Linked DNA regions of Homo sapiens: all the other regions are linked to region 3. The links come from fine-mapping of genetic effects on gene expression. A gene starts in region 3. Each other region holds a variant in brackets. All regions are shown on one strand. Distances are between the middles of the regions. Region 1 has its middle 51 kb from the start of PICALM. Region 2 has its middle 4.5 kb from the start of LINC02695. Region 3 holds the start of PICALM (phosphatidylinositol binding clathrin assembly protein).

Region 1 (2,765 bases), 51 kb after region 3:
TAGACCTAGTTTCCATTATGCAGACAGCCCAGGCACAGAAGCCAACCAGTATTTTAAGACTGCAATGTTTACTAATGGATGTCTGGCTAGAAACAGTGTTGGCAGAATCCTGGCAGAGGCATTTACTCTCACTAATGATGTGGAACAGGGCTGCATAATTATGTCCACTTGTATTAAGTCTACCTAAGACTGTGATGTTTTGTAGTGGAACCAGAAACAAGCATCCCAAAAACTCCTGGGATTTTCCTGCAAGAGGCATTACATCAGAACTGGTTCAAGGCCAGGCACGGTAGCTCATGCCTGTAATCCCAACACTTTGGGAGTTCGAGGTGGGGGATCACTTGAGGTCAGGAGTTTGAGACCAGCCTGGCCAACATGGTGAAACCCCATCTCTACCAAAAAAGACAAAAATTAGCTGGGCGTGGTGGCAGGTGCCTGTAATCCCAGCTACTCGGGAGGATAAGGGGGGAGAATTGCTTGAACCCAGGAGGTGGAGGTTGTAGTAAGCCGAGACCATGCCACTGCACTGTAGCCTGGGCGACAGAGTGAGACCCTGTCTCAGATAAATAAATAAATTAATTAAATAAATAAATAAATAAATAAATAAAATTTTAAAAAATCATAAAGAACTGGTTCAAACATTCTCACAGTCTTTGCCCAGCCATTGATTTCATTTAAGGCCTTCTTCACAAAAATGACTTCACGGAGTACAGAGATCAGAATGCTTAGCAGAAAATTTTGGGACGTAAAGACAGTATATACCATACATGGACTATCCCAGGCCAGGAAAAACCTATTAAACATTTCCTTGGAAACAATATGAGGTACTTTTCTTGCACATATACAAATGTAGAAGGACACTTAATCTATCCCCTGCTCCCTGCTCCAGGAAAGCTATTGAAGTTATACATCATCATTTTCTTTCCTAGCTGTACCTGGGACTAGAAGCATCAGCAGTTATTCATCAGCAAGAAAGAAGGACAATTACATTCCTTGGGACTGCCTGGACACTATTCTCATGGAGAGTAATTTCTGCCTACTAAAAGAGGTAGATTCCAAACTTAGGTACGTGAGAAATCATTTGGTATTTAATAGAACTCAAGTCATCCACATAGCCCTAGAAAATGATAATTAATAAGGAGCTATGCATTGAAAATGAATAACAGTAAGCCTTTAAAATGAAAACCCTTAGAATAAAGGAATAGCTGTTGTTATTATTATGTTAGTATTACTTAGTATTAAAAAGGTCAAGATAGTGTCATCAGATTTCTTTTCCATCTACATAATTCCTAGACCTCCAGAGAATCTTCATGTCATTTTCTGAAATGGAATGCTGCTTCAAAAATTTTGGAAATAAACC[C/A]TAAAACGAGGACACTAAAGAAGCATTGATTTTTGCAAATTACTATTAAATAATATCTTTATCCCATATTAATAATTTAACCACAATGTTTGTCAAATAACCTAAAAATTTGGCTACTTTAGAAAATATCCAGTATCATCTGAAACCAAATATTAGGGTTTCAAAAGAGTTGGAACTTGGATCTGGGGTAAGAAAAAGTACCATGTCCCTGCCTGCCTCCCTTCCTTCCTTCCTCTCTCTTTTCCTTTCTTCTATTCATCCTTTCTTTTTTCATACTTCTGGCCTTTTGGTGCCCCTTATCTATATCTAGGGTAACATTTCAGTGGAAGAGATTCTAGAAACAAACAATGTGTGGCATTCAAATATAGAGAGTTATTTGCAAGGCAAGATGTAGTTTCTGCCACTCATATGAATCCTCTGTCAAGATGTTTGTCCCTCAGTTGTTGATGCAGATAGTCAAAGATTATCCCTTTAATCTTTAACATTGTCAAAGTTAATATATACCCTTTACTTTTCAACACTGTCAATGTTAATATAAACCTTTTAATTTTTAACATATTCAAAGTTAATATAAACCCCATTAATGCTTCTCAGGTGATCAAACACAGGAATGATCACTATGAACTAGTTGTATCAGTAGTTTTTCCATTCGGTAGCTGGTACATATTTGGGGGTATGATATCGTCAAAAGTCATAGTGATAACTGCCCTTAGTTATAGTATTTTTAATACAAAATAATATCACCTTTATTATTTCATTTGAGACTCCCATAGACCACTGCTTGCTACTCCAGAAACTGTTCCCAATTGTGTCTGCCATTTCATGCCCTCTCCTGAGTACTGCTGCTCCCTCTCCCCTGAGTTTTATTCTCTACTCCTTCCTTTATCCTTTTAAGTATAGTTAACACAGGCTATTATGTTTAACACACTGTACTAAATGTATTAGTTTCTTAGAGCTATCATAACAAAGTACCACAAACTGAGGGGCTTAAACAACAAAAATTGATTGTCTCTCAGTTCTGTAGTCTAAAGTCCGAAATCAAGAGGTCAGCAAGGGTATTCCATTTGAGGACTTTCTCCTTAACCTGTAGATGGCTATATTCTCCTTATGCCTCTAACATCATCTTCCCTTTATACTCTCTGTGTTTTTGTATCCCAATTGCTAGTCCTATAAGGATGTCAGTCATACTGCACTAGGGTCCAGCCTAATGACCTCTTTTAAACTTGATTATCTCTGTAAAGACCCTGTCTTCAATTAAGGTCACCTTTTTTTTTTTTTAGATGGAGTTTCACTCTTCTTGCCCAGACTGGAATGCAGTGGCCCAGACTGGAATGCAGTGGCACAATCTTGGCTCACTGCAACCTCCGCCTTCTGGGTTCAAGCGATTCTCCTGCCTCAGCGTCCT
Region 2 (2,765 bases), 120 kb after region 3:
AAATTTTTATGCCTCAAAATAACCATGTGAGGTAGGAACTAATACCTGTATTTTATAAATGAAAGAACTAAGGCTCAAACAAGGTCACATGGTTAGAAAATAACAGGATGAGGAGGAATGGAACCAGGCCTTTAGATTGCAGATCTGGTGTCTTTCTGTTATACCTTCACTGACTCCCAGTATCTTCCAGCCTTTGTTACTTTATAAAAATATAGATGCATACAAAGCAGTGACTAGTTTGTGCTTTTCTTTCCTTTCTTTTTTTTTTTTTTTTTTTGGTTGAGATGGAGTTTTGCTCTTGTTGCTCAGGCTGGAATGCAATGGCACGATCTTGGCTCACTGCAACCTCCACCTCCCGGGTTCAAGCAATACTCCTGCCTCAGCCTCCCGAGTAGCTGGGATTACAGGCATGCACCACCACACCCGGCTAATTTTTTTTGTATTTTTAGTAGAGACGGGGTTTCTCCGTGTTAGTCAGGCTGGTCTCTAACTCCTGACCTCAGGTAATCCACCCACCTTGGCCTCCCAAAGTGCTGGGATTACAGGCGTGAGCCACCGCACCCAAGTGTGTTTTTCTTTTCTTTTTCTTTTTTTTTTTAAAATAGCTTGGCTGGGCGTGGTGGCTCACACCTGTAATCCCAGCACTTTGGGAGGCCAAGGCGGGTGGATCACGAGGTCAGGAGATCGAGACCATCCTGGCTAACACAGTGAAACCCCGTCTCTACTAAAAATACAAAAAATTAGCCAGGCATGGTGGTGGGCGCCTGTAGTCCCAGCTACTCAGGAGGCTGAGGCAGGAGAACGGCATGAACCTGGGAGGCGGAGCTGGCAGTGAGCCGAGATTGCGCCACTGCACTCCAGCCCAAGCAACAGAGTGAGACTCCGTCTCAGAAAAAAAAAAAAAAAGCTTTATTGAAGTTTTTGTATGTATGTTATATATTTCTTCATAAAATTTACCCACTGTAAACATACCATTTAATGATTTTAAAAAATTTTTGTAATAGCTTTATTGGGATATAATTCACATACTATACAATCCACCCACTTAAAGTGTACATCCAGTGGTTTTTGGTATATTCACAGAGTTGTATAACCATGACCACATCAATTTGAGGACATTTTTAGCATCTCAAAAAGAAACCCTGTACCTTTTACTATCACATCTGAATCCTCCCTCATAGAAATGGTTTTATATAACATGTGGTCTTTTGTGACTGCCTTCTTTCACTTAGCATAATGTTCTCAAGATTCATCCATGCTGAAGCATGTACCTACTTTATCCTTTTTATGGCCAAATAATACTCCATTGTGTAAGTATAGCACCTTTTGCTTATCATTTTATCAGCCAATGGACATCTGAGTTGTTTCTACCTTTTGACTATTATGAGTAGTGCTGTTATGAATATTTGTGTACAAGTTTTTGTGTGGACATATGTTTTCATTTCTCTTGGGCATATACTTAGGAGTGACATTGTCAAACGATAACTCTATTTTTAACTTTTTGAGGAACTTCCAGGTTGTGTTTTCGAAAGTGGCTGTACCATTTTATATTCCCACCAACAATATATTGAGGGTTCCCACTTTCCTATGCCCTCACTGACGCTTA[G/C]TGTGCTTTGCTTTTTTCACTCAACATTATTTCATAGATATGTTTCCATGTTCACTTGGTTATCATTTTTAATGGTTACACAGCGTTCCAAATCAGTTAGTTGGATATTATTTAAAAATTACTTTAAAGCTCAGGACTTGGATTGTTTTCATTTTGTGCCATTATAAATAGTGGTACTAGAATCTTCACTGCTTACTACATTTTTCCTTTAGCTTATGTCCTTGAGGTATGTTCCAAAGTGGAACAAAGGGCACATACAGCTCATGTACTGCTTCCCTGGTTAGTCTGCAGAAGAGTTGACTGTACCTAAAATGCTATCAGCAAAGTTTGCACTTGCCTTCCTCTCCACAGCCTCTGCCAACATAAGGCTTTGTTGCTTTATTTGTGTATATTAATGATATAGTTACTGTATTAGTCTGTTCTCACACTGCTAATAAAGACATACTTGAGACTGGATAATTTATAAAGAAAAGAGGTTTAATTGACTCACAGTTCCACATGGCTGGGGAGGCCTCATAATCATGGCAGAAGGCAAAGGAGAAGCAAAGTCATGTCTTACATGGTAGCAGGTAAGAGAGTTTGTGTAGGGGAACGCCCATTTATAAAACCATCAGATCTCATGAAACTTACTCTCTCCCATGAGAACAGTATGGGGGAAACCATCCCCATGATTCAGTTATCTCCATCTGGCCCGGCCCTTGACACATGGGGATTATTACAATTCAAGATGAGATTTGGGTGGTGACTGAGCCAAACCATATCAGGTATAGGTACATGATAGAATCTTATTTTTTATTTTTATTTTGAGACAGAATCTCACTCTGTTGCCCAGGCTCAAGTGCAGTGGCACGATCTTGGCTCACTGCAACCACTTCCTCCTGGGTTCAAGTGATTATCCTGCCTCAACCTCCCCAGTAGCTGGGAATTACAGGCATGCACAACCACATCCAGCTAATTTTTGTATTTTTTAGTAGAAATGAGGTTTCAGCATGTTGGCCAGGTTGGTCTCAAACTCCTGGTCTCAGGTGATCTGCCTGCCTCGGCCTCCCAAAGTGCTGGGATTACATGTGTGAGCCACCACACCTGGCCTGAATCTTAACAATCTTAGGCTGTTTCGATTTGTATTTCTTTCATTGTTGGTGAACTCACAATATTTTAA
Region 3 (2,765 bases):
AAATTCCACCAGAGGCAAATAAAAATCCCAACTTTCCAGAAAGCTTTCCCTACACCAAATTGAATCCTTTTACTTTCACTCCCACAAAGAAGGTAATCTGAAATAAAAGTCGGGTAACTGGGTATGGTATTTAAAATGAGTCGAAGAAACTACACTGAAGCTACTATAGAGGCGATGAAAAGGTAACCCAAAAGCAGGAGGGAAGGTGGAACAGAAAGCCAGGAAGGGATGGGCGAAGCAGCTAGTGGAGCAAAGGAAGTGGGGGATCCCTTCCAGGGAGGCAGCCCGGAGGGATAACAAGGATCTGGATGCAAGGAACCAGGCGTTTACTGAAACCCGAAGGAGGCTGATGAAGAAACAATGGGGCTTGGAGACGCTCAGACGAGGGCGACGAGGCGGCACCGGACGGGTGGGAAGGAAGAGCAGAAGGCTGCAGTGGAGACGGGTAGGGGGTGAGAAGCCAGGTGGGGAAGCAAGTTGGTTGGGTATGATGGGGTGTGGTAGCGCACCGGGCAGGGAGACGAGGGTCCCCTAGGAATAGGGAGGGGAGTGGCTTGTCAGATTTTGAGACGGGGAGCGGAGGCCGTGAAGGCAGGTGTGATGGAAGCAAAAGAACACAGCTCAACGGGCACAGGACCGGCCGTGCCAGAGAAGACGCAGGGAGGGAAGAGGCAGTAGAAGGGTGAAAGACAAGAGAGAGAGAGAAGGACGCGCGCGGGTCGCGCGGGCGCCGGGGAGCGGGGGCCGCGGTCGGCTTCACTCACAGTCCAGGTGCTTTTTCTTGGGCCCCATGATCTCGTGGGTCGTGGCCTTGCATACTGTCTTGGATACGGCAGAGCCGGTGACACTGTGCTGGGCGGCAGTGATTCGGTCCGTCAGGCTCTGGCCGGACATCTCTGCAGCTCCTCCACCACCCCACCCGCTCAGCAGCCGGCGGGGACTGGGACCCCCAAGAGCCGGAGGGTCCCCACCCCCCACCGCACCCCCTACCCCCACCGGCTCCTTCCCCGCCTGCCGGCCTGGGGCGCGGTTCGGGGCCGCGCGCTGCCACCAGTCCAGAGAGAACCGGCTCGTGTCACCCGCGGAGTCGGACAAGATGTCGGGCACTCCCTTGCCCCCGCCTCAGTTCAGCCCACCCCTTCCCGGGTCAGCTGGAGCCGGGCAGGGTAAGAGGAACAGGCAGCTGCAGGAAAATGGCGGCGCCAGGCTCCTCCTCGGAGCTTTCCGGGCTGCCCCGGGTCACGTGACTCGGACACCGCCCCTCCTCCCTTCTCCCGCCCCTTTCCCCTTCCCTTTCCTCTTCGACGCCCGCCCTCCCTCGCTCAGCGAGGGAAGAGCTGGGCGGCGCCCGCGCGTTACGTGATGGAACTCGCCAGGCGGGCGCAACAGGAGGCCCGCCCGAGGGGAGTGCACAGCCGGCGCATCACGTGACTCTCCCTGCCAACAGGTCGCCTGAGGCTCGGCCCGCGGGGTCACAGACGCCGGGCGGGGCGGGGCGGGAGAGGAATGGCGAGGGCGGTGTGCTGGCGGGGGTGGGGCGGGGCGGCAGGCTTCTCCCCTTATCCCCCCACCTCAAGTGTGTCCTCGTGTCTGTGGTTGAAACCAACAGCTTGACAAAGGAGGTGCAGCTGCCTTCACAGCTTCCCCTGAAGTGGGGGGTATTAGGCCTCTGGCTCCCCGAGCTTTCCCAGCAGAGTCAAGAATGTATTTCAAGACGCCTCCCAAAGCCGCCCTCCTGGCTTAAAGGAGAAGGTTCCAAACGGCCTATTTTCTGAACCTTCCAGCAGGCCTCTCTCTACCATGGAACTATTGAAGCTCTCCTTATTTACTTACCCCAGAAAGGTTTTTTCCCCCCTTTCCTTGAGAGGCTTGGAAATGTCACCTGGTTTTGTTTATCTCTACTCCGAAAACCCGACACGTTGCTGCCATTCTAAATTTAGATACTAGCTGGCCGGTATTCATTCTCTAGGGTGTGGAATAGGACAGGAAACACATAGCTTCACTGGAATTTGAAAAGGGAAGTAGTAGGATGATGTCAACAGCGATTAGCTTGACCCTACATGGCTGACTGCTGTGGTGATTAAAGGTCCAGACCATAGAAGGAAGTGAGAGGGGCGGTAAATGGAGAAGTCCCATTCAAACAGTCCAGACATCACTGCCTGCCATCTCCCCTGGTTTAGTCTTTCTTACCTTTGGCCTCTTTTCTCTTATTGGGTGAGCCAGATTTCCATGGAAAGACGTTGACACTGCCCTGTGGACATTTTAAAAGAAGTATTACATCCTGAAATACTATTCAATGAGACCCAGACCATACATTAACAAAGCCTTTTATATGTTATTAGAGCCTCTACATTCAACCCAGGGTTAGGGATAAGTTGAAAAATATGTGAGTGCTAAGTTACCATGATAGTCACATGTAATCTTGCTAGTTTCAAATGAAATGCTAACATTCTCAGAAAGTCTGTGTACACCATCTGCCAGCCAAATCCAAAATACTGTGCTTCAATCTGGTGACTCTCAAAGGATGCAAAGCTGATAGATATTTAACATTTTATGTATCATATCAGGAATTTTGTGGTCTCCCATTTTCCCCACGCCCCCTCACCCCTCTTTTTTCCCCACTATGGCTGGTGAAATTCTGCAGCAACATGCTCTTGCCAAGAACACACAAGTTTTTAATCCCAGCAGGCTTCATCTTTGTCAAGCCAGCCTCCAATTTCACAAAACTATAATGAATTCCTTCAGTGTACTGCAATCCATCTGTG

Evidence for each region. PIP is the estimated chance that this variant, and not a neighbour inherited with it, causes the effect. A credible set is the group of variants that fine-mapping cannot tell apart.
Region 1: its variant is the best candidate, but not a certain one, in a credible set for the expression of PICALM in fibroblasts (GTEx, PIP 0.66).
Region 2: its variant is the best candidate, but not a certain one, in a credible set for the expression of PICALM in whole blood (INTERVAL, PIP 0.83).

What each region holds. Positions count from the first base shown.
Region 1 is chr11:86,119,139-86,121,903 of GRCh38, forward strand. No RefSeq gene overlaps it. Among named protein-coding and RNA genes, the nearest start is that of PICALM, 51 kb to the left of the region's middle. The variant C/A (reference allele first, on the strand shown) is at 1,361.
Region 2 is chr11:86,187,596-86,190,360 of GRCh38, forward strand. No RefSeq gene overlaps it. Among named protein-coding and RNA genes, the nearest start is that of LINC02695, 4.5 kb to the right of the region's middle. The variant G/C (reference allele first, on the strand shown) is at 1,607.
Region 3 is chr11:86,067,887-86,070,651 of GRCh38, forward strand. PICALM (phosphatidylinositol binding clathrin assembly protein) reads right to left here and starts at 1,198. Exons shown (of 20, transcript NM_007166.4): 1 at 765-1,198. The coding sequence starts at 894. LOC124902731 (a long non-coding RNA gene) reads left to right here and starts at 2,038. Exons shown (of 2, transcript XR_007062823.1): 1 at 2,038-2,765. RefSeq lists enhancers at 1-546, 547-1,248, 988-2,187 and silencers at 813-862, 933-982, 1,123-1,292, 1,443-1,712.